4 separate regions of the Homo sapiens genome follow, and all the other regions are linked to region 1. Evidence: fine-mapped expression QTL. A gene starts in region 1. Each other region holds a variant in brackets. All regions are shown on one strand. Distances are from middle to middle.

What was found.
Region 2: its variant is fine-mapped to the expression of COMMD4 in whole blood (INTERVAL, PIP above 0.99).
Region 3: its variant is fine-mapped to the expression of COMMD4 in whole blood (INTERVAL, PIP above 0.99).
Region 4: its variant is fine-mapped to the expression of COMMD4 in whole blood (INTERVAL, PIP above 0.99).

What each region holds. Positions count from the first base shown.
Region 1 is chr15:75,331,697-75,339,802 of GRCh38, reverse strand. It overlaps COMMD4 (COMM domain containing 4), which reads right to left and starts at 3,740. Exons shown (of 8, transcript NM_017828.5): 1 at 3,711-3,740; 2 at 1,670-1,741; 3 at 1,383-1,448; 4 at 1,118-1,157; 5 at 699-818; 6 at 459-539; 7 at 1-101. The coding sequence starts at 3,713. RefSeq lists enhancers at 3,347-3,516, 3,857-3,906.
Region 2 is chr15:75,239,184-75,247,289 of GRCh38, reverse strand. No RefSeq gene overlaps it. Among named protein-coding and RNA genes, the nearest start is that of GOLGA6C, 15 kb to the left of the region's middle. The variant T/ATTTTT (reference allele first, on the strand shown) is at 4,460.
Region 3 is chr15:75,541,429-75,549,534 of GRCh38, reverse strand. The region is part of intron 1 of PTPN9 (protein tyrosine phosphatase non-receptor type 9); the gene reads left to right. Among named protein-coding and RNA genes, the nearest start is that of PTPN9, 34 kb to the left of the region's middle. The variant G/A (reference allele first, on the strand shown) is at 4,506.
Region 4 is chr15:76,088,034-76,096,139 of GRCh38, reverse strand. All of the region lies in intron 1 of TMEM266 (transmembrane protein 266), which reads right to left. Among named protein-coding and RNA genes, the nearest start is that of TMEM266, 32 kb to the right of the region's middle. The variant T/CTTTTT (reference allele first, on the strand shown) is at 4,145.

The DNA.
Region 1 (8,106 bases):
CACCTCCAGCCGCAGGTGCACCATGGGCTCTTCCACGGATTGCAGCAGGCTGGAGCTCAGGGTGTAGTCCACCCGCCAGCCCACACCTGCCAACCTATTCACTGTGAGATGGGGTGGGTGGCTCTCAGGATCAAAGCAGGCAAGCCAAGTAGACCTCAGCCGACACCCTGGCTCAGCTCTCAACCATTCAAGGCTATGTGGCCTCTAAGAAGCTCCCATCCTGCTGACCCAGGCTCAGAACAGGGCAGGTGCCCGATAATCAGTTCTGATCACCCACAGCAGACCTCAGTGACAAGAAACCTTGTGGGGAGTCAGGAGACCCAGGGCCAGGTCCCAGCTCTACGGCTGCTAGTAACCATGTGACCGTGGTTAAGTCGTCTCCCTGGACTCTCCATGCACTTTGTGTGCTGCGTGCACCTTCTAGAATGAGCCCGGACCCTGGCTGGCCTCATACTTACTGCGTAGGCTGCAGACCCGCAAGTGCTTCTGCAAGGGGCTTTGCTTCTCCTCATAACAGCGGCACAGGCTGGCCGCGTGCTCTGGGGGTAGAATGGAGTAGCTCTGGAGGTAGCATGTCGGGGCCTGGCTTGGGCTCCTGGCCCAGACAGGGCAGGTACACCTCAGGGTCACAGGGCCTGTCCCCTTCTCTAGCAGCCCTTGGCCCACAGGCTGCCCAGCTGCCCACCCACAACCCGTACCTTTGGGCAGCCCCAGCTGCTGCAGTTCACTGGACAAGGATTCGCCATCGACACTGTGCTTGGCCGCACTGGAGAGGATGAAACTCAGCACTGCCACTGTGGCCTTCACATCGCCTGACTCTGAGGGACCCGTGGGTGGGGCAGGGGGTGTCACTGTGGGTCCAGCCACCTCCCTGTTGCCCTATTAACTTTAGCTCAAAGCCCCCAGGCCTCCTGGAGCCACAGGCACTGCTACTGCTCCACCAGGAGCTGGCAGAGGACAGGAAGGTGGGACTGTCGGTCTTTCTTTCCCTCATGCTCCTCCACTAGGGAAGGTAAGTTAAGGATGCTGCTGGGAGGGGTGGGGGGCCCCTCTGTACCAGGCACCAGGCCAAGTTCCCAGGGTTGCCTGGGGCCTATAGACTCAGCGGGATACTCACCAAACTTGGCGTCAGCCGTGAGCTTCAGGATCTTCTCATACTATGGGGAAAGGAGACCTTCAGGGGGTGCCAGGCCCCTGCTCACCAGCCCCTCACCCCCAGCCTGGATCCTGCGATAAGGAACAGACAGGCTGGAAAGAAGGAAGGGAGGTGCCCAGAGAGGTTGAGAGGCTGGCTCACCCGTCTCCCTGGGCCTAGTGCAGAGTTTCAGGGCAGTGGTGGTCATAAGGTCATGGGACAATGGGGTGCTGGATCTTGTACTCACATCAATCCCCTGTCCCAGCAGCTCCTTTAGTACCTGGCTGCAGAGCAGCCGCAACTTCACAGAGGACTGGAAGGGAAGTCCTTACATCAGCCAGGCTGGCAAACCTCACCCCTCCTTCCTGGGGACTGGCTCAGAGCAGGCCAGCCACTGATCAAGGTCACAAAGCATGGTAGCACAGGCTGAGAGCACTGAGGCCCTAGCCCCAGAGAAACCTCACCATCCTCTACACCCACAATCCCCACCCCCAACACCCCTCCTCCACCCAGACTAGACCCTGTGCACTCAACCATCTTGGCCAGCGTGCTGATTTCTGCCAGGACCCAGTCGGGACAGTCCAGATCACCACAGAACCGGAACCTCTGCAAGGGAGGGAGGCAGGTAATCAGGCTGGAGGGAGGCCTGAGGTGTGGCCAGGATCCGTGTGTCTCCCACACTGCTGCCCACCAGGGACCCCTGGTCCCCGACATAGATGGATACCCTCTGGCCTCTTGTTCTCCCCTATCACCAGGCTGTTGAGTAAACTCTCTCCCTGACCCACCCTGCCACCAAACCCTGCTCTGAGGTCTACTCCAGGCATTCATCTGCTCAGCAAACATCAATTAAGCACCTTCTCTGTGCTAGCTCCCACTCTAAGTGCTGGGGGTACAGCATGGGATAAAACAAAGTCCTGGGCCTCACAGAGACGAGTGAACTCTCTCCCCTCTTCCCCATACCCACACAACTCCAGCCACTCCAGCTTCCCTGCTGCTGCTGGGGCACACCAGCCTTGCTCCCGCCTCCATGCCTGCTGCACTCTCTGTGTGGCTTGCTATCCTTTTTTTTTTTTTTTTGAGACAGTTTCACTCTTGTTCCCCAGGCTGGAGTGCAATGGCGCGACCTCGGCTCACTGCAACCTCCGCTTCCCAGGTTCAAGTGATTCTCCTGCCTCAGCCTCCCAAGTAGCTGGGATTACAGGCATGTGCCACCACACTCGGCTAATTTTGTATTTTTAGTAGAGACAGAGTTTCACTATGTTAGCCAGGCTGGTCTTGAACTCCTGACCTCAAGTGATCCGTCCCCCTCAGCCTCCCAAAGTGCTGGGATTACAGGCGTGAGCCACGGCGCCTGGCCAGTGGCTTGCTATCCTTTAAGTGACACATCAGACCAGCCCTTCTTTTTTTAAAAAATAAAAAAATAAGACAGAGTCTCCCTCTGTTGCCCAGGCTGGAGTGCCATGGCCATGCTGGTCTCGAACTCCTGACCTCAGGTGATCCACCCTCTTCACTCTCCCAAAGTGCTAGGATTACAGGCATGAGCCACCGCACCCAGCCAGAACAGCCTTTCTTGATTATACTTCTTAAAATAGCCCCTCACACAAGGAAATTATGGAGGCCAGTGGATACGTTCATTATCTTGATTGTGGTGATCCAAGAGCCAGGAAGATTTGTTCTCTACTTGTCCAGCCTCATCTTTCCCTAACCTGCAGATGATACTCTCCCAGCTATGGGAAATGCATCCATTCCTGGGGAGCCATACTCTCTCTAACCTGAAGTCTCTGCACATGCTGTTCCCTGTCTGAAGACACACGTCTCCCACCCTTGCCTCCCTACCCCTGGTACACAAACTGTACTTCAGCCAGCCAGCTCCTGCCATCCATCCGCCTTTAAGTTTGATGGCATCCTTAGGAAGCCCCCTTAGCACTACACACAAGGCGCAGTTAGGTCTCTGCCCCTGGAGCCTTAGCTATGACTCCAATTCAAGCCTCCGATTTCCCCTTCCCTTGGCAGCTCAAGTCCTCCCAGTGCCTAGCACACTTCATGGTATAGACCAGGCGCTTAGAACGTACGGATGGATGGATTGGATGGATGGATGGATAAGTCTCAACCCCAAAACTACTACTTTCTGGCTCTGGAAAGAGCGGAGGGGCTTCCTAACAGTGTGGAAGAGTGAGCCTGATTCTAAGCACCTTCTTGTACAAGCCCCACGGCAGGGCTGGGGAAGGGGGTATCCTTGGGAGGTCCTCTTGGGGATGGGGAAGACCTGAAAGGACTCCCAGCTCCAGACAAGCCCTAGTTCCTGCCCCGGGAGGCAGGGGCCCTTCCTTCCGCCAGGGAAGCACCGGGACTCTAAGCCGGCCGGCCTGCTCTGTCTTACCCGCCCCGTACCCCCGCCCCCGTCTCGGGAGCGGGAGAGTGGTGGACTTTTCCCTACCAGACTCACAGCCCTCACGCCCGCACACACTGTGTTTGCGGAGAGGCCAGTACAACCTCCCCCAGTTTCCGGAGCCACTTGGCGCCCCCTCATTCCCGCTCCAGCAGCCCAAGCCTCGCTTCGCCCCTAGTGCCTCACCATCGCGCCAAGAAGCCAGGGCCCGGGAATTTCTTTTTCCGGTCCCGCAGGGTCAGCTGAGTCGACGATCACGTGACTTGGACTAACTGCCTCTGGGAGGGCGGGGCCTGCTCGAGTGAGGCCGGGAGCGGACCGCAGCCCGCTGGAGGTGCAGGGGGCGAAATGCTGGCGTCTCCTCCTCCGTCTCCCAGAATCCTTCCCTGGAAAAAACTGGCGCCAACCGCCAGTTTAACTGAGGACCGAATTAAGACATTAGGAAAGACAGTGGAAGTTATTTCATTTGTTTAACTTAAGGGGGTAGGATCCCGGGAGCCAGGGTGTTTCAGGTCATTGACACGTTTTCCACTGTTAAGCGAATAGCATTATTCACAGCTGCGGGCTGTGGCAAAAGACATTTTAAAAACTATTGACGTCTACTACACATACAGAAAATTGTACCTATTATAAAGCTTAATAAGTTTTCATCAACTGTACACCTCACATAACCAGCACCCAGGTAAGGAAATAAACCAGATAACTTCTTCAAGTGCATGGGTATTTTATTTCATTTTGATGAATCATCTAGGTGCCTAGCAAAAAGGGCTGTCATAATTACTTGCTCAGGAAAACTCCCTACAGCTTCAACATCAATAGATGCTTATCTTAATTTTTGCCAGTCTGATGGGGAAGAAAAATCGGTTGCTTAGGTTGCAGTGGTAGTCTGATTACTGGTAGCTCTGAGCTAATGGGTAGTCTAGAACAACTAAGTTTCCGACATTGACTTGAAGAGGCAAAAACAAAAAGACAAAACAACAAGAAAAATACATTTGAGAATAGACTAATAACCAGAGACAAAATTGAATACAGTCGTCCTTTGGTAACCTCAGGATGTTGGTTCCAGGACCCCAGAGATACCAAAATTCACAGATACTCAAGTCCCTGATATAATATGGCATAGTATTTGCAAATAACCTGTGCACATCCTTCCGTATACTTTAAATCATCTCTAGATTACTATAATACCTAATACAACGTAAATGCTTTGTAAATAGCTGTTATAAAGTTTTTTAATTTTTTTTTTTGAGACGGAGTCTTGCTCTGTTGCCCAGGCTGGAGTGCAGTGGCGCGATCTCCACTCGCTGCCAGCTCTGCCACCCGGGTTCACGCCATTCTCCTGCCTCAGCCTCCCGAGTAGCTGGGACTACAGGCGCCCGCCACTGCACCCGACCTGTGTTTTTTTATTGTTTTACTTTTTCCAAATATTTTCGATGCACAGTTGGTTAAATCCAAGGATCCAGAACCTCAGGATACAGAGGGCTGACTGTAGTTTGAGCTCTCTCCTCAATTCCATGCCTATCCCATGCAACAGGTGCAGCTGGTTTTATTGTTGCAGGCTTTCAGGTTTTTAAAAGACAGAGCCCATGACAATTAAACTGCACTATAAAATAGAAATGTAAAGTGTCCCCAATTCATGGTAAAATTGAGCTCATTTCTGAAGAGTTCTTTTACAAATCATAACCACTAGCCTGTTGAAAACAACAGTACGTTAAGTTACTAGACTATCCTAAACCATGTCAAAAAAATTTTTTAAGAATGTTAAGACCTTTAATCATAGCACTTTGGTAGGCCAAGGCCGGTGGATCGCTTGAGCCCAGGAGTTCTAGACCAGCTTGTGCAACATAGGGAGACCCCAGTCTCTACAAAAAATTACCCGCTTGTCCTGGTGCACACGTGTTGTCCCAGCTACCTAAGAGGCTGAGGTCAGAGGATCTCTTGAGCCTGGGAGGTGGAGGCTGCAGTGAACCATGATGGCACCACTGTACTCCATCCATCCTGAGCAACAGAAGGAGACCATCTCAGAAAAATAAAATAAAATAAAAATAAATAAATAAATAAATAAATAAATAAATAAAGGCTGGGCACGGTGGCTCATGCCTGTAATCCTAGCACTTTGGGAGGCCGAGGCAGGCAGATCACCTGAGGTCAGGAGTTCGAGAGCGGTGGCCTGGCTAACATGGCAAAACCTGTCTCTACTGAAAAAAAACAAAAAAAATTAGCAGGGTGTGGTAGTGGGTGCCTGTAATCCCAGCCAGTCAGGAGGCTGAGGCATGAGAATCGCTTGAACGCGGGAGGTGGAGGCTGCAGTGAGCCGAGATTGCACCGCTGCATTTCAGTCAGCTTGGGCAACAGTGTGAGACTCCGTCTCAAAAAAAAAAAAAAAAAAAAGATGATTTGACTATTTAGAGCCGTGGTTCTCACACATTAGAGTGCATCATCATCACCTGCAGGGCTTGTGAAACCGGCTGCTGGGCCTCACACCAGAGTTTCTAACTCAATAGGACTGAGGTGGGGCCTGAGCATTGCGTGTCTATATTCCCAGGTGACATTTGAGACCATGCTTTGAAAACCACTAGTGTAGGGAAATATACTACAGAATATGTTATGAATATTCTTGAGAATATGTATATATGTTAACTTAGGGTTTCTGTCCAGTGGAAAAGATAACACCCAAAGATGGCAGTTTTATTTCCCAATATGATTTTCTTTTTTTTTTTTGAAATGGAGTCTCGCTCTGTCACCCAGGCTGGAGTGCAGTGGCGCCATCTTGGCTCACTGCAACCTCCACCTCCTGGGTTCACGCCATTCTCCTGCCTTAGCCTCCCGAGCAGCTGGGACCACAGGCGCCCGCCACCACGCCGGGCTAATTTTTTTATATTTTTAGTAGAGACGGGGTTTCACCGTGTTGGCCAGGATGGTCTCAATCTCCTGACCTCGTGATCCGCCCGCCTCGGCCTCCCAAAGTGCTGGGATTACAGGCGTGAGCCACTGCGCTCGGCCCCCCTTTTTTTTTTGAGACGGAATTTAATTCTGCCGCCCAGGCTGGAGTGCAGTGGCACAATCTCAGCTCACTACAACCTCCGCCTCCAGGGTTCAAGCGATTCTCTTGCCTCAGCCTCCTGAGTAGCTGGGACTACAGGTGACCACCACTGCACCTGGCTAATTTTGTATTTTTAGTAGAGACAGGGTTTCAACATGTTGGCCAGGCTGGTCTTGAACTCCTGACCTCAGGTCATCCGCCTGCCTTGACCTCCCAAAGTGCTGGGATTACAGGTGTGAGCCACCATGCCTGACCTCCCTATAGGATATTAACAAGTTTTGTCTCTATCTCAGAATACATTTCAGAATGCCCTTCCTGGAGCATTACAGACACTGTCTCTCAAAAAGCTCCTTGAACTTGCTTCACCATGTTGCTAACTCCCTTGTGAATTAAAGAAAATATCTTATACATATTCCTTCATTATTTGTATGAAAGTCATGCTTTTAACATTGTAAAAATTATTCTTCAGGCTGGGTGCGGTGGCTCATGCCTGTAATCTCAGCACTTCGGAAGGCCAAAGTGGCGGGATCACGTGAGGCCAGAAGTTTGACACCAGCCTGGCCAACATGGTGAAACTCCGTCTCTACTAAAAAAAAAAATCAAAATTAGCTAGGGGGTGCACACACCTGTAGTTCCAGCTACTTAGGAAGCTGAGGCACAAGAATTGCTTGAACCTAGGAGATGGAGGTTGCAGTTAGCTGAGGTCGTGCCACTGCACTCCAGCCAGAGCCAGACCGAGACTCTATCTCAAAGAAAAAAAAAGAAAGAAAATTATACTTCGATACAGTATGCTAATATAAAGGATATAATCTGGTTTGGCTGTGTGTCCCCATCCAGATCTCACCTTGAATTGCAATAATCCCCACGTGTCAAGGGTGGGACCAGGTGGAGATAATTGAATCATGGGGGCGGTTTCTCCCATGCTGTTCTCGTGATGGTGAATGAGTTATCACGAGATCTGATGGTTTTATAACAGGCTTTCTCCTTTGATTCGCTCTCCTTCTCTCCTGCTGCCCTGGGAAGAGGTATCTTCTGCCATAATTGTAAGTTTCCTGAGGCCTCCCCAGCCATGCAGAACTGTGAGTCAACTTAAACATCTTTTCTTTATAAACTACTCAGTCTTGGGTATTTCTTCATAGCGGAGTGAGAATGGACTAATACAGTGTACTAATAACAGCCCAGACAGTAGTATACAGGTACTACTATACTTTGATGCTAGAGGTATTCCCATTAAGGTCAGGAGCAGTATGCGCTATCATTACCATGATCTAACATTGTTCCAGAGGGTTTTAGGTCAGCAGTTCTCAACTGGAGGTGATTTTGCCGCCCTGGGGATATTTGACAGTATCTGAAATCACTTTGGCTGTCACACTGAGGAGTGCTGCTGGCATGTGGCAGGCGGAGGCTGGGGATGCTGCTAAACATCCTGCGAGGCGCAAACAGCTCCAGAACAGAGAACTGTCCAGCCCTAAACATCAACAGTGCTGCTGTGGAGAAAGCCTGGTCTAGACAAATAAAACATGGGAAATCCATTAACAT
Region 2 (8,106 bases), 93 kb after region 1:
AAATGCAGGGTCTGCCCCCCCAACCCCGAAATCTATTTTGGAAATAACTGTATTTGTGTGTGTATATATTATGTTATTGTCAGGTTGTAAGCTTTACTAGCAGAGAGCAATTTTTAAAGCTTTAAAAGAACACTGAGCTAGATCTAGCTTCTGGCTCTGTGTGTTTATTGACTAGTGGTGTGCCTTGAGAAACCAGAACTCTTCTGAATTTCAGTTTTGTCTCTGTGTAAAATGAAGAAGGTTGAAATAAAAAATTCTCAGGTTTCCTTCCAGGCTCTGGTCTTCTCCATGTGATTCTGATAGTTACCTTGTCTGCAGAAAGCCTTTAGGGTACTGAGAAGCCCAGGGTTCTGAAAGGGAGATCCACGTGCCATCACCATTGATAGTTGTTTGGTGCAAAACATGGTTTGCTTGCCTCTATTGGTGTGTTGCTTTCAAGTATGGAATTTTTTTTAATCACACAATAATATTAGTGGAGGTCAGAATTTCAGGAACTTCATATACAATTGGTGCCATTATAGCAACACTTTTTTTGTTTTGTTTTGTTTTTGAGACAGCGTCTCACTGTGTTGCCCAGGCTGGAGTGCAGCAGTATGCATGAATGCCATCAGTTTGTAGCTAACACAACAGCTCCCTGGAGGTCAAGGCATCCTGGCTGTCACTCTAGCCTTCCTACCAATTAAGTTAATTACATCCACCTTGTGGATGATGGTGAAGGGCCACCACCTGGCATCCGCTGTTCTCGCCTTCCACCGTTCCCACTGACACCACGAAGCCTGGTCTCATGGCAGCATCTCCTCTTGTCGATCCTGGCCTACCAAGGATAGTGCCACTGAGTCCCTCAAAGATTCAGGTGCCCTTCTCACTAGTGCCTTCCTTGCTTGCCTAGAGAGGGGAGTTCCTGTGAGCCCTCCAAGGGCACATAGTCAAGTGGTGGATTCCGAATCTCCTGGCATATAATGAACCATTCCAACATTCCTACCTCCCTGTACTTTCTGGCTTCTTTGACGCTTTGCAAATGCAATTCTATAATCTCCTCCTAATTCACTGCAGCAACTGTTCCGTCCACATTTCAAGGAGCCACTCCAGCACTGTGTTGGAGCCCCAGGTGTCTTTGCCAAGCCATTAAATCTTGAGAGTGCCCCCAGGTTAGTATATTCTCATGTATACAGCCTTTAGTCTCCCCCTGGTCCAACACCCTTATGTCCACTTCTTCACCTCCTCTCCTAGATTCTGCCAGTAGGCACTTGGCAGCTCCTGCATTTTTGGCAAAAAAAAAAAAAAAAAAATCATTCTCCCAGAGCAGATTGTGCCTGTGACCTTGGGCCATGATGAGAAATGACCATAGCCTGGTGTCAATGTGGGGCAGCAATGACGACACACCTCATCCTGCTGTAAGGCCTTGTTGGAGGCTCTTTGCCTAGTCTCCAGGCAAGGGGCAGCTGCCCTTCTCTTAGCAAGGAAAGGGGGCTACTTCCTTTAGACCAGAGCATTTAGTGGAAACTGGAGGTTCAAAGTTCTCAGATGTATCCACTTAAGTTTCTCCATATCAGATATCAGGATCCCTTTTCTTTTCATTTTGTTTCATTTCGTTTTGTTTCATTTCTTTTCTTTTCTTTATTTTGAGATGGGATCTCACTCTGTCACCCAGGCTGGAGTGCAGTGGCATGTTCTCAACTGACTGCAACCTCCACCTCCCAGGCTCAAGCAATCCTTCCCACCTCAGCCTCTTGAATAGCTGGGACCACAGGTGCGCAACACCATGCCTGGCTAATTTTTTGTATTTTTGGTAAAGATGGGGTTTTGCCATGTTGCCCAGTCTGGTCTCAAACTCCTGAACTCAAGAGGTCCACCCACCCTGGCCTCCTGAAGTGTTGGGTTACAAGTGTGAGCCACTGTGCCCAGCCCTTTCTTTGTCTTCTTTTTTTTTTGTTTGTTTGTTTTTTTTTTTTTTGACATGAGGTCTTGCTCTGTTACCCCGGCTGGAGTGGAGTGGTGTGATCATGGCTTGCTGCAGCCTCAACCTCCTGGGCTCAAGCAATCCTCCCACCTCAGCCTCCTGAGTAGCTGGAACCACAGGCATGTGCCACCACACCTAGCTAATTTTAAATATTTTGTGGACAGGGTCTACCTATGTTGCCCAGGCCGGTCTCCAGCGCCAGGTCTCAAGCATGCAGCCGTGCTGCTGCTGATGATCCAGGAACCAGATTTGGAGAACTTTGTTCTAGCGCTACTGCATCAGCAATGCCTGCCCTTCCACCTGTACCATATCCCAATCCACAGTAGGTGAGTTTCCTAGTGATGGTATTGCTATAGCCCACCAGCACATCACTACCCCACTTACCACCAACAATGGATCCTGTTGCCACCTGATTAGTGAGTTCCAGGATCCTGTCCTAAAAGTCTACTCTCTAGGGCTACTTTTTAAAATTTTTAAAAAATTTTTATTTTATTTTTATTATTATTTTTGAGATGGAGTCTCGCTCTGTCACCCAGGCTGGAGTACAGTGGCATGATCTCAGCTCACTGCAACCTCCACCTCCCAGGTTCAAGTGATTCTCCTGCCTCAGCCTCCCGAGTAGCTGGGACTACAGCCACATGCCACCATGGCTGGCTAATTTTTGTATTTTTAGTAGAGATAGGGTTTCACCATATTGGTCAGGCTGGTCTCAAACTCCTGACATCAGGTGATTCACCCACCTCAGCCTCCCAAAGTGCTGGGATTACAGGCATGAGCCACCACACCTAGCCCAAATATCTTTATTTTGTCTTCTTATCTGACAGATATTTTCACTAAGAATGGAACTTGAGGCTGGCAGTTATTTTCTTTTGGTACAGTGAAGGTGTCATTCCATGGTCTTCTGGTTCCTGAGGTTTCTGTTGACTGACAGCCTAATTGTTGCTCCTTTGAAGGCAATCTGAATTTTTTCTCAGATACTCTTTTTTGGTAGGGGACCAAAAAAAGGGGTCATGCACTACCAAAGTGCTGGATTACAGGGTCTCACTTTGTCACCCAGGCTGAAGTGCAGTGGTGCAATCTCAGCTCACTGCAGCCCAGACCTCCTGGTCTCAAGCAATCCTTCGACCTCAGCACTTCAAGTAGCTGGGACTCCAGGCATACACCACCACACTTGACTAATTTTTTCTATTTTTTGTAGAGACAGGGTTTCACCATGTTGCCTAGGCCAGCCTTTAACTCCTGAGCTCAAGCAAACCACCCACCTCAGCCTCTCAAAGTGCTGGCATTACAGGCATGAGCCAACATGACTGGCTCGGATACTTTTAAGATTAAAGAAAGTTTTTGCCTTTGGCTTTCTGCAATTTTACCATAACGTGTCTAGGTGTACTATTATTTTTATTTGTCCTGCTTGGGGTTCATGAGGCTTCTTAAATCTGTGAACTATTGTTTTTCATAATTTAAAAAGTATTCTCTGTCATTATTTTTTTAAAATATTGCTTCTGCCTCATTATCTCTTTCTATCCCTTTATTTATTTATTTTGAGACAGGGTCTTGCTCTGTTGCCCAGGCTGAAGTGCTCACTGCAGCCTAGAGCTCCCAGGCCCAAGAGATGCTCCCAGATCAGCCTCTCTAGTAGCTGGGACCACGGGCGTGCACCACCACACCTGGCTAATTTTCGTATTTTTTGTAGAGTCGGGGTTACACCATGTTGCCCAGGCTAGTATTGAACTCCTGGGCTCAGGCGATCTGCCTGCTTTGGCCTCCCAAAGTGCTGGGATTCTGTGAGCCACTGCGCCTGGCCCCTCTTTCCTTTTTTTCTGGGATGCTGATTAAAGGTATATTTGGCCTAGTCAAATATGTGGTGGTGTGCACCTGTAGTCCCAGCTACTTGAAGGGCTAAGGTGGAAGCATTGCTTGAGCCCAGGAGATCCAGGCTGCAGTGAGCTGAGATCGCACCACTACACTCCAGCCTGGGTGACAAAGTGAGACCCTGTAATCCAGCACTCTGGGAGTGTATGATCCCTTTTTTGTCCCCCCGCAACCCCAGAAGTATCTGAGAAAAAATTCAGGTTGCCTTCAAAGGAGCAATAATTAGGCTGACAGTCAACTTCTCAACAGAAACCTCAGGAACCAGAAGACCATGGAATGACACCTTCACCGTACCAAAAGAAAATAACTGCCAGCCTCAAGTTCCATTCTTAGCGAAAATATCTGTCAGATAAAAAGGCAAAATAAAGATATTTGGGCCAGGTGTGATGGCTCACGCCTGTTATCTTAGCACTATTTTTTTTTTTAAATGACAAAATATTTTTAAATTATGAAAATATATCTCTAGAGGATCCCTAGTGTATCCTCTGTATCACTTACTTTCTCTTCTGTGTGTTTTATTTTTTTTGTCCCTTCATGTTTCATTCTGAATATTTTCTTCTGAATTACTAGGTTGGTGAAAAAGTAATTGCAGTTTTTGCCATTTTATTTTATTTTATTTTATTTTATTTT[T/ATTTTT]TTGAGATGGAGTTTCACTCTGTCGCCCAGGCTGGAGTGCGGTGGCACAATCTCAGCTCACTGCAACCTCCACCTCCTGGGTTCGAGCAATTCTCCTGCCTCAGCTTCCTGAGTAGCTGTGATTACAGGCTTGTGCCACCACTCCTGGCTAATTTTTGTATTTTTAGTAGAGATGGGGTTTCACCATGTTGGCCAGGCTGGTCTTGAACTCCTGACCTCAGGTGATCTGCCCACCTCTGTCTCCCAAAGTGCTGGGATTACAGGCATGAGCCACCGCGCCTGGCCAGCCATTACTTTCAATATCTTCCAGTTCATTAATTCTCTCTCAACTGTGTCTAATTGGCTCTGGAAACCATGAATGGAATTATTAATTTTAGTTATTGTATTTTGTCTTTCTTTCTTTTTCTAAGAGAGAGCCTTCTTCTACCACCCAGGATGGAGTGTAGTGGTGCGATCATAGCTCAATGTAACCTCAAACTTCTGGGCTTAGGTGATTCTCCCGCCTCACCCTCCTGAGTAGCCAGACCTATAGGCACAGACCACCAGCTGGTCTCAAATTCCTGGGCCTCAAGCAGTAACCCTGCCTCGGCCTCCCAAAGTATTGGGATTATAGGCATGAGCCACTGAGCCCCAAGTTAATGCTATTGTACTTTTCAATTTAGAATTTACTTTTTAAATACCTGTGGTGCTATTTTTTTTGTAGTTTTCTAAACTCTTGCATCTTATATTTTACTTCCTTGAACATATTAAGTATAGTTATTTTGTAGCCTGTGTCTGATTCCAATATCTGGAATCTCCGAGCATGTTTCTATCGTTGCTTCTTTCTGATAGTTCTTGGTTCATGTTGTGTTGTGTCCTACTGAGTCTAGCTACCTTAGTTGTGTGCCAAACATTTTTTAAAAATCAGTTTGTAATGCTTTGAGGCTTACGATAATGTTGTCTTCCTCCAGAGACAATTCTGTTTTCCCATTCCACATACCTGAATACACTAGCAATCCAAAAATTTTAAATTCAATTTTGGGGATTGAGGCCGGGTGCGGTGGCTCACACCTGTAATCTCAGCACTTTGGGAGGCCAAGGCGGGTGGATCACCTGAGGTCAGGAGTTCGAGACCAGCCTGGCCAATATGGTGAAACCCCATCTCTACTAAAAATACAAAAAAATTAGATGGGCATGGTGGCAGGTGACTGTAATCCCAGCTACTTGGGAGGCTGAGGCAGGAGAATCACTTGAACTTGGGAGGTGGAGGTTGCAGTGAGCTGAGATTGTGTCACTACACTCCAGCCTGGGCAATAGAGTGAGACTGTCTCAAAAATAATAATAATAAAATAAACATAAAAAACTGGGGGAATTGCGACTCAAAGCTGGACTGCAGTCTCTGCGAGGTTCAGTTTACTTTCAGAATACCCTAACTCTCAAGGTACAGCCTTTCATTGTCCCCACCTTATGGTCTGTGGGTTTATGAGAGCTACACACAATACCCTGCCCCAGGCTTTGGCAGTCCCTGGACTCAAACTTTTGTCCCCATTGCACCTAGACGCTGTTCAACATGTACTGCCCAGCTTCTCAGCTGCCTTTTTAGAGGTGGGGAACAACCGCATGTGAAAAGTAGCTCCGAGTACTGAGTTACCTCTCTGGATTGCTGTCTCTTCCTGTGTCTTAGTCTAGAAATTCTTCACTATTGTGTTAACTCTTTGATGCCTTCAAACAGATTTTGGGGTTTTTTTTGTAGCCAGTTTTTATTAAAGGTAAAAATTGCACAGCTTTTCCCATTTTTTTCCTTGGTTAAGTCTATTCATACTGCCTGCTCCTTGAGTCAGAAGCAAAAGCATGGAGGTAGGAATGAGCCTGGGAAGAATGAGGGGTACCCTCATCTAGAGTGAAAGGTGTTCACTCCAGACATGCAGAACGGTAAAGAAAATTATGAAAGGCCAAGAAGGCTTGGAAGGGTAGGCTGACTGGAAGGGAATGCCTGTCCACTGACTGCCCTCCGCCTCCACTGAGTGAGTCCTACTTACGTTGGCTGAGTTGAGTGCTGCCAAGGTGGGGCAGGGGTGCGTGTCAGGCAAGACTTCTGCCCTGCGTGGATGTATAACTCAGGCGAGGACAGGGAAGAACAGAAAGCCCCAAATAATAGTGGCTCAAATGAGAGAGAAGTTTATTTCTCTCTCACACCAACACAAGTCTGAAGGTGGCAGTTCACAATTGGTAAGGTGACTTAACAAGGATGTCTAGTGCACTTACAGCCTCATGACACTTTATCCTATTGGCTAGAACTGCGTCACACAGGCACACCGACCTACAAGGGAGGCTGGGGAATATAGTCTTTATTCTGGAGCACCATGTGCCCAGTTAAAAAGCAGGAACACTGTTACTAATTAAGGATGTGTTAAAAGATAAACCTGGCCAGGCACAGTGGCTCATGCCTATAATCCCAGCACTTTGGGAGGCTGAGGCAGGCAGATCGCTTTGAGGTCAGGAGTTGAGACCAGCCTGGCCAACATGGCGAAACCCCGCCTCTACTGAAAATATAAAAATTAGCTGGGCGTGGTGGGACATGCATGTAATCTCAGCTACTTGGGAGGCTGAGACAGGAGAATCCCTTGAACCTGGGAGGTGGAGGTTGCAGTGAGCCAAGATCGTGCCATTGCGTTCCAGCCTGGGGGACAAGAGCGAAATTCCGTCTCAAAAGAAAGAAAGAAAGAGAGAGAGAGAGAGAGAGAGAGAGAGAGAGAGAGAGAGAGGGAGGGGGGGGGAGGGAGGGAGGGAGGGAGAGAGAGAGGGAGGGAGGGAGGGAGGGAGGGGGGGAGAGAGAGAGAGAGAGAGAGAGAGAGAGAGAGAGAGAGGGAGAGAGAGAGACCTAAGCACTTAGAATTTTAGGAGTTGGAGCAGACAGTGATTCAAGAATCAGGCAGTGCCAGACAGCGAGTGGTTTGGAGCTCGAGGGGAAAGCTTGTATAAGGTGCACACAAAAGCAAGGCAAAGAAAACATTTGATTGGTTAAAGTGGAGCAGTGGCCTTAATGTCCTTAGAAGTCAGTTGGTGGTTTCTGATTGGTGAAGTCCCTAGTTAGTGATTAGTGGGTGATTTCTGATTGGTGAAGTCCCTAGTTAGAGGTTAGTTGGTGGTTTCTGATTGGTAAAATCCCTATAGGACAGTTGGTGTTTTCTGATTGGTGAAGTCCCTAGTGAGAGGTTAGTTGGTAGTTTCTGATTGGTGAAGTCCCTAGTTAGAGGTTAGTTGGTGGTTTCTGATTGGTGAAGTCCCTAGATAGAGGTTAGTTGGCAGTTTCTGATTTTGTAAAATTTTGTTTTCTAGGATATGGCTGTTCATGATGAGTGGGGTTTCAGTTTGCTTACAAAAGAACCTAGGGTATGGCCAGGCATGGTGGCTCATACCTGTAATCCTAGCATTTTGGAAAGCTGAGGCAGGAGGATCACTTGAGGCCAGGAGTTCAAGACCAGCCTGGGCAACAGAGCGAGACCCTGTTTCAATTTTTTTTAATAATAAAAAAAAGAACTCAGAGTACTATAGCCACCTCAGTCATGCTCCCAATTAATTATTTTAATAAGAGGATTACTTGGGGACAACTAGTGATCTCTGCTAGTCCCTCTCCTCTCCTCCCTTGTCTTCTCTTCCTCGAGGAA
Region 3 (8,106 bases), 210 kb before region 1:
TCTTCAGATTGTTCCCTTTTTAAATTTGAAATTAGCCAGATGTGGTGGCTTACACCTGTAATCCCAGCATTTTGGGAGGCTGAGGTAGGCAGATCGCTTGAACTGAGGAGTTAAGAGACCAGCTTGGGCAACATGGTGAAACCTCGTCTCTACAAAAAATACAGAAATTAGCCAAGTGTGGTGGTCCACCCCTGTAGTCCCAACTACTCAGGAGGCTGAGGCAGGAGGATCACTTGCACCTGGGAGGTCAAGACTGCAGTGAGCCATGTCCTCACCACTGTAATCCAGCCTGAGTTACAGAGTGAGACCTTGTCTCAAAGAAAAAAAAATGAAATTGGAATAATTTATAATTAATTGCATAATTCATATTATCTCACTTTTAAGGATTTCTTTAAAAAACACCAGCATCTGGCTGGGTGTGGTGGCTCACACCTGTTAATCCCAGCACTTTGGGAGGCTGAGATGGGAGGATTGCTTGAGCCCAGGAGTTTGAAATTACAGTGGACTATGATTGCCCCACTGCACTCCAGCCTTGGTTACAGAGGGAGACCCTGTTTCTATTTTTCTTTTTTTGAAATTTTTGGCTGGGTGTGGTGGCTCATGCCTATAATCCCAGTACTTTGGGAGGCTGAGGCGGGCGGATCACAAGGTCAGGAGATCGAGACCATTCTGGCTAACACGGTGAAACCCCGTCTCTATTAAAAATACAAAAAATTAGCCGGGCGTGGTGGCGGGCGCCTGTAGTCCCAGCTACTCGGGAGGCTGAGGCAGGAGAATGGCGTGAACCCTGGTGGCAGAGCTTGCAGTGAGCCAAGATCGCGCCCCTGCACTCCAGCCTGGGTGACAGAGCAAGACTCTGTCTCAAAAAAAAAAAAAAAAAAATTTCCCCTTGTCTCTAAAGGAAAAAACAAAAACAAAAATTAAAACAAAAAAGCAATACCACCATCTGTCTTCTCTTTAGAAGTTCATATTATGATATTAGTCTGGGCGTGGTGGTTCATGCCTGTAATCCCAGCACTTTGGGAGGCTGAGGTGAGCAGATCACGAAATCAGGAGTTCAAGACCAACCTGGCCAACATGGCAAAACCCTATCTCTATTAAAAGTGCAAAAATTAGCTGGGCATGGTGGTGGGCGCCTGTAATCCCAGCTACTTGGGAGGCTGAGGCAGGAGAATAGCTTGAACCTGGGAGGTGGAGGTTGCAGTGAGCCGAGATCGTCCCATTGCACTCTAGCCTGGGTGACAAGAGTGAGATTCCATCTCAAAAAAAAAAAAAGAAGAAGTTTATATTATGATATTTTAATTTAGTTAAATCTGCATTTTGAAAGCACTGTAATACAGTGGTTATAATGTGGATTCTCTAGAGTCAGAAAACCTGTGTTCTGATTCAGGCTCTACCACTTTTCTTGTTCTGGGACTTTGGACAAGTTACCTAACAGTTCGAAATCTGTTTTCTCAACTGTAATATAGGGATAATAATAGTATCAATCTTTAAGGGCTATTGAGAGAATTTGATAATCTATCTAAATCTTAGTCTCTGACTTGTGATTAGAACTCTGTACCCAGTAGGGGCCAGGCATGGTGGCTTACACCTGTAATCCCAGCACTTTGGGAGGCTGAGGCAAGTGGATCACTTGAGATCAGGAGTTCGACAATAGCCTGGCTAATATGGTGAAACCCCATCTCTGCTAAAAATACAAAAATTAGCCGGGTGTGGTGGCGCATGCCTGTAATCCCAGCTACTCAGGAGGCTGAGGCAGGAGAATTGCTTGAACCCAGGAGGCCGAGGTTGCAGTGAGCCAAGATTGAGTCACTGCACTCCAGCCTGGGTGACAGAGCGAGGCTTCGTCTCAAAAAAAAAAAAAAAGAACCCTATATCCAGTAAATATTAGCTATTGTTAAGGTCTGGTGTTACTTAATGCAGTGTAGTTAAGTTTTACACAATGCCTTCAAGGATAGCCAGTTATTTGATCATGCGAGACAGCATAGGCAGGTTTCCTTTTTTGGATGAGAAAATGTATGGCACAGAGGTTTTTTTTGTCTTGTTTTGTTTTTTGTTTTGTTTTGTCTGCCACCACGCCTGGCTAATTTATGTATTTTTAGTAGAGACGGGGTTTCACCATGTTGGCCAGGGTGGTCTTGAACTCTTGACCTCATGATCCACCTGCCTTGGCCTCCCAAAGTGCTGGGATTACCGGTGTGAGCCACTGTGCCTGGCCTTTTTTTTTTTTTTTTTTTTTTGAGACAGAGTCTTGCTCTGTCGGCCAAGCTGAAGTGCAGTGGTGCTATCTCAGCTCACTGCAACCTCTGCCTCCCGTGTTCAAGCGATTCTCCTGCCTCAGCCTCCCTAGTAGCTAGGACTACAGGTGCACACCACCACATCTGGTAATGTTTTTGTATTTTTAGTAGAGACAAAGTTTCACCATTTGGCCAGCTGGTTTCAAACTCCTGACCTCAGGTGATCCACCCACCCAGGCCTCCCAAAGTGCTGGGATTACAGGCATGAGCCACCGTGCCTGGCCTGGCACAGGTGGTTTTTGACTTGCCTGAGTGAGAGTTCTGCTGTGGCAGAACTGGGTCTTTAATGTAGGGTGACTAGTGCTCTGTCTAGAACTTGCATTCTTAACTGCCTCCTGTTGACAACACTTAGTTGTTGGCTATCACACTGTTAAGGATTATGTGGTTACTTTCTTCTTGAAACCCTTTCAATTTTTCATCTAGTATTTCTCCTTAGTCTGGATAATGTCCAGTGTAGTCGTTCTCTTATCATTTTAGGATGAAACTGTCCACAAGAATTTATCAGGCTTTCTGTGCCCACCCACCCTTTTTAAGTTAAATGTGATATCCAGCAAATGTCAAGGTTAATGAAGTTCTCTATTTCTTTTTTTTTTTTGAGACAGAGTCTTGCTCTGTCGCCCAGGCTAGAGTGCAGTGGCATGATCTCGGCTCACTGCAACTTCTGCCTCCCAGGTTGAAGCGATTCTCCTGCCTCAGCCTCCTGAGTAGCTGGGAGTACAGGCATGTGCCACCATGCCTGGCTTATTTTTTATGCTTTTAGTAGAGATGGGGTTTCACCATGTTAGCCAGGCTGGTCTTGAACTCCTGACCTCGTGATCTGCCCGCCTCGGCCTCCCAAAGTACTGGGATTACAGGCGTGAGGCACTGCGCCTGGCTGAAGTTCCCTATTTCTATACACCATTATCACCCTGACAATTTTGGGATCTGAGTCAAGAAAACAATCTATATTTTCTGTTATTGAGAAGTTTGAAGGGGTCTCCCAGTAGCTGTATCATGTCCATTACTCTCTTTTATCCTCATTCAGAAATTTTCTACTGTGGTTTGTGGATTTCTCCAGGGAATATCATTTTGGGATGTGCTGTCATTCCACTTCCCCTCTTGAGATCTGAATTACTTACTTTTGTTTGTAAAAGACAAAAATAAATAAGTAAAAATAATAAAGATTTGAATTCCATTTGCCCATTAGTTGGTGTATTGTGTTCACAGTTCTGCCAGACTCAGATTTTTATGGGTAGAGACCATGTCTTACTTATTTTACAAAATCCATAAATTTACTTTAATCTATTTTTTCAGACAGAATCTTGCTCTGTCACCCAGGCTGGAGTGCAGTGATGTGATCTTGGCTCACTGCATCCTCCCATCCCTGGCTCAAGCAATTCTCGTGCCTCAGCTTCCCAAGTAGCTGGGACTACAGGCGTGCGCCACCACACCCAGCTAATTTTTGTATTTTTAGTAGAGACGGGGTTTCGCCATGTTGGCCAGGCTGTTGTCATGATGTCGAACTCCTGATCTCAAGTGATTCCACCTGCCTCCGCCTCCCAAAGTGCTGGGATTACAGGCATGAGCCACCGCGCCTGGCCATAAATTTATTTTAAATTATTTTATTTTGTATATCCTATTATAGATGTCTGACGTTAAGATATTGGCAGGGAATTAAGATATCTAATTTCCAGATAGTTTCTTCTGTGATTTAATAGTCACCTCTTTCATTGCTTTTCTTCTCATGTTATTTTCCTGATGTTCTTTCCCAGTTTTATTTAGGAATTTTTTGCTGTCCTCTTACTTTATTTTATTTTGTTTTGTTTTGTTTTACTTTATTTTAAATCTTTTCTAGAGATGGGGGGGTCTCACTATGTTGCCCAGGCTGGTCTTGAACTCCTGGGGTCAAGCATTCTACTCATCTCAGCCTCCCATAGTGTTGGGATTACAAGTGTGAACCACCATGCTCGGCCCTCTCCTGTATTTTAAATTTTAAGTTCCCATAATCAGATTGGCAAGTGTTCAAATGTGTTCTTCCTACTCTCTGAACCACACTCTTTTAGCAGGCCAAGAGCCCATCACCATTGACACATTTACTTATCAGAATGGTGTCACTATGCTTGGTGTTGAGTATGCAGTTGTGGCACAGAACCCTTGGCCCCTGCATCTTCCCAAGCTTACAGTTTAGTGGGAGCAGATAGACAATAACATGCTTTATAATACTGTTTG[G/A]TCAGTGCTTGGCTGGAAAGCAGTAGAAATTTATAGGATGAAGTAGGATTTAGGCTGACCTGAAGGAGAAATAGGAATAAGCCAGGTTTGGGAGTAGAGGAAGGGTAAGAATGTTTTAGCATGATCTGGAAAGCCAACTTCAATTTCCTCACAGCCATTCACATTCCTCCTTTCTTTCCTAAAGTCTAAGCTATCAGTTGGAAGAAGAGAAAAAAAAAATGTTACCAAAGGCCCCTCCCACTCTCTATGTTTACCAAGCTCTTTAAATTTTTTTTTCCCCCAGAAAGACTTTACAGGTTTCTTCTGGTTGTGTGGTTCACTCACTCTTTAGCGGCATGAGTGGCAGTTGGCAAGCTGTCTACAGGTTCTTGTGGAGAGTGTGACCAGCTACCTCTGTTACCTCCCTCTGGGAACCTAGATGATGTTGCTCTTGTTGGTGGATGAGGAGCTTCTTGTTTTTGTGTGTGTGTGTTTTGTTTGTTTGTTGTTGTTTTGCTTTTTGAGACAGGTTCTGCTCTGTCACCCAGGCTGGAACACAGTGGCATCATCACAGCTCACTGTAGACTTGGACTCCCAGGCTCAAGTGATCCTCCCCCTTCAGCCTCCTGCTAGGACCACAGCAGTACACTGCCACACCCGGCTAATTTATTTTCATATGTTGTGGAGATTGGATAACCCTGTGTTGTCCAGGCTGGTTTCAAATTCCTGGGCTCAAACGATCCTCCTGCCTTGGCCTCCAAAGTGTTGGGATTATGGGTGTGAGCCCCCACGCCTGGCCAGGAGCTGCTTGTTTACTCGGCAGGTTTCGTTTTTTTCCGTTTCTCTTCTGTGTTATATTCTGCCTCTCAACCTCCTAACATGAATTTTCTCCTATGACAATTTAGAATTGTTTACTTCCTTGTTTTCCTTGTTTACCTATTTCCTCTGTTGTCTCTGGGAATTCTTCATCCTCTTTGATAACTTTGGCCTGGCAAGTGTTTTTTAAACCTGAGAGGAGAGATGCCAGCTTGTGTTTAGTAAATATGCTATTGGCAAATGCCTCCAGCAGGAAAGTGAGAGTGGCACACTCCTCGTTGAAGCATCCCCATCTAAGGCTAGCAGTTCGTGAAACAGCTGTCATCCTTTACCCCTGTGTAGAGCTCCCTAACTCATTTTTTTGGCCCTGAAATGAAGATTACCAACAAACTTATTATTGTTTGGTGGCATAGTTTCAAAAATATTATGTTCAAAAATTCCTGTTATGTATATTTTAGTTAAAGGCTATATAAAACTAATATGTTTTATTGTTATTTTTTTGAGTGGATAATATAGTCATACGATTTAAACTTAAAAAGATACAGAAAGGAATATGGAAAATATTAATCTTCTCACCATGTCTCCCAGCTACCTAGTTCTCCTCTGAGACAGCTGATGCTACCAGTTTCTTATTTATTCTTCCAGAGTAATTTTGTGCATAGATCAACAAACAAATGACATATATATTACCCAATAAGATGAATGATATGTGTCTTGTATGTCTCATGCCCATTTAGTGAAGTGGAAAGACTATAAGGATTTGAAAAGACTTGGATTCAGTGCTCAAAACCTCAGCTCTGCCATTTATTGGTTGAGTAACCTTGGACAGTTTGCTTCGGCTCTGTGAGCCTTTGATTTCTTTATGCGGTTAATAATACCTAGCTTGTCAGTGTTGAGTATGATGTAGTATGGTTCCTTCTCTGGTATATCTTAAATGCTTCACACATGGTTACTACTACTGTGATTTCTTGCAGGACTTTGCTCTTTGGTCTGTGTGAACTGGGAGGGGCAAAATCTTGCTCTAGAAAAATGAAGGGCAGCCATAAAAAATGATGAGTTCATGTCCTTTGTAGGGACATGGATGAAACTGGAAAACATCATTCTCAGCAAAGTATTGCAAGGACAAAAAACGAAACACTGCATGTTCTCACTCATAGGTGGGAATTGAACAGTGAGAACACATGGACACAGGAAGGGGAACATTACACACCGGGGACTGTCGTGGGGTGGGGGGAGGGGGGAGGGATAGCATTAGGAGATATACCTAATGCTAAATGACGAGTTAATGGGTGCAGCACATCAACATGGCACATGTATACATATGTAACAAACCTGCACATTGTGCACATGTACCCGAAAACTTAAAAGTATAATTAAAAAAAAAAAGCCAAAAAAAAAATGAAGGGATTGAATTGCCTTCTTTAATATGTGACTAATGCTGTCTTATGTGTACAAAGGAACCATGAGCCAAAGGAGACAGAAATAGCATTTGAAAAGGAATAGAACATTTTCTGCTCATCAGGTATTGGAGACAAACTATTCCTGATCTGGGGCTGTCACACTTGGCTGGTGGAGTGCTGATAAACCTTAGCCCTTCACTTCTGCTGGTAGGAAGTCATTAACACTGAGGAGCTTTTCGTGTTTAACAGTTCAGTTAACTCTGGCCCCTCAGTGTTGCCTGAAGCTTTGGACTCAGATGGGAAACTTCACTTGGTCAACCCTGGTTTCCTGTTGATCCGTTCCCAGTGGGATATTAATCCTTTAATAGCAGTTAGCTTTTTTTCTTCTTGGGTTCTTGCATAATGCTTGATGTGGTAGATGGAAGAGTCCCATGGTTTCAGAACCATCCTATTTGGTTTCATTAGGCAGATGGGTGTTAGGCCTTTCTTCATGGTTATTTGGCCTTACCCTTTCTGATGAGATTTGTAGGGCTTTGAGTTTGAAGTGCACATAGTCCCTTAACGGATGAACAAGAAAGACTTTCTATCTTGCAACATGTGGATATCAGAATAAAGAGACCTGATAATATGGGTTATCTTTTAAAGGAAGAAAATGTTTGTAAACTCATTGTGAAAGATTCTGTGCCACATGTAGTTTTAAGCAGTTGGTTCTGAGTTCCCAATATACATTTATCCAGATTGCTGGGAGTAGACCTATTAATGATTTATATTTTATTTTATTTTATTTTATTTTATTTTTGAGATGGCATCTTGCTCTGTCACCAGGCTGGAGTGCAGTGGCACCATCTCGGCTCACTGCAACCTCTGCCTCCTAGGTTCAGGCGATTCTTCTGCCTCAGCCTCTGAGTAGCTGGGACTACAGGTGCACGCCACCACTCCCAGCTAATTTTTGTATTTTTAGCAGAGACGGGGTTTCACCATGTTCCAGGATGGTCTCAATCTCAGGAGGCTGAGGCAGGAGAACTGCTTGAACCTGGGAGGTGGAGGTTGCAGTGAGCTGAGATCGCACTACTGCACTCCAACCTAGGTGACAGAGTAAGACTCCGTCTCAAAAACAAAAAATAATAAAGGCCAGGTGCAGTGGCTCACGCCTGTAATCCCAGCACTTTGAGAGGCTGAGGCAGGCGGATCAGGAGGTCAGGAGATCAAGACCATCCTGGCTAACACGGTGAAATCCCGTCTCTACTAAAAATACAAAAAATTAGCCAGGCATGGTGGCGCGCACCTGTAGTTACAGCTACTGGGGAGGCTGAGGCAGGAGAATGGTGTGAACCTGGGAGGCGGAGCTTGCAGTGAGCCGAGATCATGCCACTGCACTCCAGCCTGGGCGACAGAGCGAGACTCTG
Region 4 (8,106 bases), 760 kb before region 1:
AATAACTAAGATTAGAGCAGAACTGAAGGAGATAGAGACAAGAAAAATCCTTCAAAAAATCAATGAATCCAGGAGCTGGTGTTTTGAAAAGAACAACAAAATAGATAGTCTGCTAGCCAGACTAATAAAGAAGAAAAGAAAGAATCAAATAGATGCAATAAAAAATGATGAAGGGGATATCACCACTGACCCACAGAAATGCAAACTACCACCATCAGAGAATACTATAAATACCTCTACGCAAATAAACTAGAAAATCTAGAAGAAATGGATAAATTCCTGGACACATACACCCTCCCAAGTCTAAACCAGGAAGAAGTCGAATCCCTGAATACACCAATAACAAGTTCTGAAATTGAGGCAGTAATTAATAGCCTACCAACCAAGAAAAGCCCAGGACCAGATGGATTCACAGCCGAATTCTACCAGAGGTACAAGGAGGAGCTGGTACCATTCCTTCTGAAACTATTCCGATCAATAGAAAAAGAGGGAATCCTCCCTAACTCATTTTATGAGGCCAGCATCATCCTGATACCAAAACCTGGCAGAGACACAATAAAAAAAGAAAATTTCAGGCCAATATCCCTGATGACAATCGATGCGAAAATCCTCAATAAAATACTGGCAAACTGAATCCAGCAGCACATCAAAAAGCTTATCTACCACGATCAAGTCGGCTTCATCCCTGGGATGCAAGGCTGGTTCAACATATGCAAATCAATACACATAATCCATCACATAAATGGAGCCAATGACAAAAACAACATGATTATCTCAATAGATGCAGAAAAGGCCTTTGACAAAATTCAACAGCCCTTCATGCTAAAAACTCTGAATAAACTAGGTATTGATGGAATGTATCTCAAAATAATAAGAGCTATTTATGACAAACCCACAGCCAATATAATACCAAATGGGCAAAAACTGGAAGCATTCCCTTTGAAAACTGGCACAAGACAAGGATGCCCTCTCTCACCACTCCTATTCAACATAGTATTGGAAGTTCTGGTCAGGGCAATCAGGCAAGAGAAAGAAATAAAGGGTATTCAAATAGGAAGAGAGGAAGTCAAATTGTCTCTGTTTGCAGATGACATGACTGTATAGTTAGAAAACCCTGTTGTCTTGGCCCAAAAACTCCTTAAGCTGATAAGCAACTTCAGCAAAGTCTCAGGATACAAAATCAGTGTGCAAAAATCACAAGCATTTCTATACACCAATAACAGACAAACACAGCCAAGTCATGAGTGAACTCCCAATCACAATTGCTAAAAGAGAATAAAATACCTAGGAATACAACTTACAAGGGATGTGAAGGACCTCTTCAAGGAGAACTACAAACCACTGCTCAAGGAAATAAGAGAGGACAAAAACAAATGGAAAAACATTCCATGCTCATGGATAGGAAGAATTAATATTGTAAAAATGGCTATACTGCTGAAAGTAATTTATAGATTCAATGCTATCCCCATCAAGCTATCACTAACTTCCCTCACAGAACTGGAAAAAACTACATTAAAAATCATATGGAACCAAAAAAGAGCCTGCATAGCCAGGACAATCCTGGGCAAGAAGAACAAAGCTGGAGGCATCATGCCACCTGACTTCAAACTATACTACAAGGCTACAGTAACAAAAACGGCATGGTACTGGCACCAAAACAGATACATAGACCAATGTGACAGAACAGCAACCTCAGAAGTAACACCACACATCTACAACCATCTGATCTTTGACAAAGCTGACACAAACAAGCAATGGGTAAAAGATTCCCTATTTAATCAATGGTGTTGGGAAAACTGGCTAGCCATCTGCAGAAAACTGAAACTGGACCCCTTCCTTACACCTTATAGAAAAATCAACTCAACATGGATCAAAGACTTAAACATAAGACCTAGGACTATAAAAATCCTAGAAGAAAACCTGGGCAATACCATTTAGGACATAGGCAATGGCAAAGGCTTCATGTCTAAAACACCAAACGCAATGGCAACAAAAGCCAAAATTGACAAATGGGATCAAATTAAACTAAAGAGCTTCTGCACAGCAAAAGAAACTATCATCAGAGTGAACAGGCAACCTACAGAATGGGAGAAAATTTTTGCAATCTATGCATCTGACAAAGGGCTAACATACAGAACCCAGAAAGAACTTAAACAAATTTACAAGAAAAAAACAAGCAACCCCATCAAAAAGTGGGCAAAGGATATGAACAGACCCTTTTCAAAAGAAGACATTTATGCAGCCAACACACATATGAAAAAATGCTCATCATCACTGGTCATCAGAGAAATGCAAATCAAAACCACAATAAGATACCATCTCCCACCAGTTAAAATGGCGATCATTAAAAAGCCAGGAAACAACAGATGCTGGAGAGGATGTGGAGAAACAGGAATGCTTTTTACACTGTTGGTGGGAGTGTAAATTAGTTCAACCATTGTGGAAGACAGTGTGGTGATTCCTCAAGGATCTAGAACTAGAAATACCATTTGACCCAGCAATCCCATTACTGGGTATATACCCAAAGGATTATAAATCATGCTACTATAAAGACACATGCACACGTATGTTTATTGCAGCACTATTCACAATAGCAAAGACTTGGAACCAACCCAAATGTCCATCAATAACATATACACCATGGAATACTATGCAGCCATAAAAAAGAATGAGTTCATGTCCTTTGCAGGGACATGGATGAAGCTGGAAACCATCATTCTCAGCAAACTATCACAAGAACAGAAAATCAAACACCGCATGTTCTCACTCATAAGTGGGAGTTGAACAATGAGAACACATGGACATAGGGAGGGGAACATCACACACCAGGGCCTGTTGGGGGGTGGGGGGCTAGAGGGAGGGATAACATTAGGAGAAATACTTAATGTAGGTGACAGGTTGATGGGTGCAGCAAATTAACATGGCACGTGTATACCTATGTAATTAAAACTGCACATTCTGCACATGTATCCCAGAACTTAAAGTATAATAATAAAAAAAAGAATAAATAAATAAATAAATAAAAATAGCACCTGGCTGGGCACGGTGGTTTACGCCTGTAATCCCAGCACTTTAGGAGGCCGAGGCGGGTGGATCACGAGGTCAGGAGTTCGAGACCAGCCTGACCAATATGGTGAAACCCCGTCTCTACTAAAAATACAAAAATTAGTTGGGTGTGGTGGTGCACGCCTGTAATCCCAGCTACTCAGGAGACTGAGGCAGGAGAATCACTTGAACCTGGGAGGCAGAGGTTGCAGTGAGTCGAGAGTGTGCCACTGCACTCCAGCCTGGGTGATAGAGCGAGACTCAGTCTCAAAAAAAAAAAAAAAAAAAAAGCACCTAACTCATAGCATTGTCATGAATTCAATAACCCATAAAAGGCTTAGAATACTGACTAGAACATAGTATAGATTCAGTGACTATTAGCTATATTATTTATTTATTTATTTAGAGATGGAGTCTTGCTCTGTTGCCCAGGCTGAAGTGCAGTGGCACAGTCTCAGCTCACTGTAATTTCCGCTTCCCGGGTTCAAGCAATTCTCCTGCCTCAGCCTCCAGAGTAGCTGGGATTACAGGCACCTACCACCAAGCCCGGCTAATTTTTGTATTTTTAGTAGATACGGGGTTTCGCCATGTTGGCCAGGCTGGTCTCAAACTCCTGACCTCAGCTGATCCGCCCGCCTCGGCCTCCCAAAGTGCTGTGATTACAGGCATGAGCCACCACGCCCAGCTATTGGATTATTAATATCCTTCTCAACATGCCAACTTTGATTAGCTGTACCAATATTTTGTTACATGTTGAGCTTTAAATAATTTGTGTTCTGTTCTGAAACTATACAAAGTTTAGCATGCTTTGGGAAATTGCTCTTAAACTGAATCTAAAACATGAAGACCAATAAGCAGCATTTATACTATAATTACAGTATATTCACTGCAGAATCAGGTAGTGTGGTTAAATCAGGACAGAAAGGGATATAGTACTATTTCATTATATCCATGTTGCTGGATAGAGAAAGTTCAAGTATACAGATTTCTTTTTTTCTTATACTCTATCATATCGCTCAACATGATACTATATTTTAGCCTGCTTCATATTTGATCCATGACTTTTGCCATAGGTTTTTCTTTTCTTTTCTTTTCTTTT[T/CTTTTT]CTTTTGAGACAGGGTCTTGCTCTGTTGCCAGGCTGTAGTGCAGTGGCATAATCAGTGCTCACTGCAGTCTTGACCTCCTGGGTTCAAGCTATCCTCCTGCCTCAGCCACCATGGTAGTTGGGATCATAGGGATGTGCCACCACACCAGGATAATTTTTGTATTTTTTGTTTCAAAATAGGGTTTCACTATGTTGCCCAGGCTGGTCTTGAACTCCTGGGCTCAAGTGATCCTCCCGCCTCAGTTTCCCAAAGTGCTGGGATTACAGGTGTGAGCCACTGCGCCCAGCCTCCATAGGTTTTTCTTTATCCTTCTGAGGTTTCTCATTGCCTACTTCTTATAGAAAGTAGAAACAGGAAGCAGAAATAAATGTTTTCTCCATTTTATGAAAGATCATCAAGATCCCCAAATTTTCTGTTAATTGATAATTTTTGTTTTGTTTTGTTTGAGATGGGGTTTCACTCTGTCATCCAGGCTGGAGAGCAGTGGTGCAATTATGTCTCACTGCAGCCTCGAACTCCTGGGCTCCAGATATCCTCCCACCTCAGCCTCCCAAAGTGCTGGGATTACAAGCATGGGCCACCACTCCCGGCCCTTAAACTGTCAATTTAAGACACATTACTCTGTGGGTCTGCTGCATAACTGTCATCCTGGCCTGGCTCCATTTTTTTTCTGAGGTCCCATGTCTTCCTCTTTGTTGAGTTCCTTTTATCTTTGCTGGAGTACACCCTCAAGTAATTTTTTTCAGTAAAATTATATAGAAAAATCTTCTGAGTCTCTACATGTCTGAAAGCAATTTGGTCTGCATCATGCCTTCTCCATTTTTTTCCTCTCACTTCAACACTATGGCTTTCACTACACTCCAATAAAAATGATCTTGATATGTTAGCCAGGATCTCCTAATTACCAAACCCAGTGGACACTTTTTTCCCTTTTATTTTTAGTTGACATGTAATTGTACATATGTATAGGATACACAGTGATATTTTGATACATGTATACAATGTGTGATGATTAAACCAGGGTAATTAGCATATCCATCACCTAAACATATATCATTTCTTTGTGTTGTGAATATTAAAATACTGTCTTATAGCTTTTGGAAAATATACAATAGATTACTGTTAACCATATTTACCCCCCAGTACTATAGAATACTATAACTTATTCCATCCATCTAGCTGTAATTTTGTATCTGTTAGACAACCTCTCCCTGTCCTACCCTCTTCCTCACCCTTCCCAGCTTCTAATAGTCACAATTCTAATCTCTCTACTTCTATGAGCTCAGATTGTTTTAGCTCCCAAATCCCGTGGACACTTTTAACCCTACCCATTTATTGTAGAATTTGACACTGTTGATAACCCTCTGATTCTTAAAACTCTCAGTTCCCTTGGTTCTTGGGACACTGTGCATCCTTTGCCCTTTTCCTCTCTTTTTGTTTCCTTTGAGGTTCTGCATTCTTTTCCCAACTTTTTTCTTTTTCTCTTTTTTTTTTTTTTTTTTTGAGACAGAGTCTTTCTCTGTCACCCAGCCTGGAGTGCAGTGGTGTGATCTTGGCTCACGGCAACCTCCACCTCCCAAGTTCAAGTGATCCTCCTGCCTCAGCCTCTTGAGCAGCTGGGATTGCAGGTGTGCACCACCATGCCTGGCTAATTTTTGTATTTTTAGTAGAGCCAAGGTTTCGTCATGTTGGCCAGGCTGGTCTTGAACTCCTGGCCTCAAGCAATCCACCCACCTCAGCCTCCCAAAGTGCTGGGACTATAGGAGTGAGCCATCATGCCCGGCTCTCTTCCCAATCTTTCAATACTGATATTCTCTGATGTCCCATCTCTACCCACTGACGGTCTTTCTCATAAATGGGCTTTCTGAAATAGCTCATCTAGCACTATGATTTCAGCCACCAACTATCTGATGACATAAAGCACTAAATGTCACACACGAATTTCAAAATTAGTCTATCCAAATCTTAACTGATTATCTTACCTCCATCCAAAGGCTGTTTCCATGTTCGTGGTTTTTATTTTGTCTTGTGAAGTTACCATCCACCCAAATCTTCCCAGTTAAGAGCCATGGGAGTCATCCTTAATCTTTCCCTCTTTCACAGCCCCCAACCAGTTGCCAAATCCTCTCAAATCTCTCAGAAATGTCTCTGGAGTTTCATCATCTTCTCTAGTCTCACTGCTACCCTAATTCAGATCCTCATTATTTCTCACTTGGATTACTGAAACAACTCCCAACTTGCCCCTCTGCCCTCGCCTGTGCCCTTGCCTCTCCTGTCGGTACATCCTTCATTCAATTAGTGATCATCCCAAAACAAAAAACGCACGACCATATCTTTGCCCTATTTAAGACCCTAGCTAGCTCCCTCCTGCTCACAGAATGTTTAAACTTATTAGTATCATACACAACCTTTTGCAATTTATCTCTCCCCATTTCCATTTCCAGCCTTCCCTCTCACCCTTCAACCCCACGAATTCTACAATTCAGCTATAAGAAACTTCTGGGCTGGGCGCGGTGGCTCAAGCCTGTAATCCCAGCACTTTGGGAGGCTGAGGCGGGCAGATCACAAGGTCAGGAGATCGAGACCATCCTGGCTAACACGGTGAAACCCCGTCTCTACTAAAAATACAAAAAAATTAGCCGGGCGTGGTGGCGGGCGCCTGTAGATCCAGCTACTTGAAAGGCTGAGGCAGGAGAATGGCATGAACCCGGAGCGGCAGTTGCAGTGAGCCGAGATTACGCCACTGCACTCCAGCCTGGGCAACAGAGCGAGACTCCATCTCTAAATAAATAAATAAATAAATGAAACTTCTGAAGATCACGGCCCCTGCTCACACCTGTAATACTTCCTCTTGAAGACTCTATGCTTTTCTTTTTCCTCTTTTTTTTTTTTTTTTTTTTTGAGACAGAGTCTTGCTCTGTTGCCCAGGCTGGAGTGCAGTGGCACGATTTCGGCTCACTGCAACCTCTGTCTCCTAGGTTCAAGCGATTCTCATGCCTCAGCTACCTGAATAGCTGGAGTAACAGGCATGTGCCACCATGCCTGGCTACTTTTTGTATTTTTAGTAGAGACGGGGTTTCACCATGTTGGCCAGGCTGCTCTTGAACTCCTGACTGCAAGTGATTCACCCACCTTGGCCTCCCAAAGTGCTGGGATTACAGGCGTGAACCACCATGCCCCGCCTTTTTTCCCTTTTTTGAGATGGAGTCTCACTCTGTAGCCCAGGCTGGAGTGCAGTGGCGTGATCTCAGCTCACTGCAAGCTCCGCCTCCCGGGTTCATGCCATTCTCCTGCCTCAGCCTCCCGAGTAGCTGGGACTACAGGCGCCTGCCACCACGCCTGGCTAATTTTTTGTATTTTTTAGTAGAGATGGGGTTTCACTGTGTTAGCCAGGATGGTCTCGATCTCCTAACCTCATGATCCACCCACCCTGGCCTCCCAAAGTGCTGGGATTACAGGTGTGAGCCACTGGGCCCAACCACTTTATTTTCTTTTTTTCTTTTCAATAGAGACAAGGTCTCCCTCTGTTGCCCAGGTTGGTCTCGAACTCCTGGGCTCAAGGGATCCTCCTGCCTTGGCCTCTAAAGTGCTAGGATTGTAGGTGTGAGCCACTATGCCTGGCTGATGCTTTTCTATTTACTGTTTCTTTCCTAACTTCTTCAGGCCCAGTTGCTCCCTGTACACTCCCAGAGTACCCTGCTAATAACTTTTCATCACACTGTCTTATTGCCATCTATTTTCATCTTCCTCTATGGCTATGCCATCAACCTCTTAAAAGCCAGGCTTATGTTTTACATATTGGTATCATCAGCACCTAGCATAGGTCTAACCACTAGAAGACACTTCAGTGGATGTTGAGGAAGAAAAGAGGACAGGACTTTGGGGAAAGATTATGTTCAGGAGGCAGGAAGAAGAGCCATGCTGAGGGTGCTTTGAGGGTAACAAGGACCCTGTAGTCACA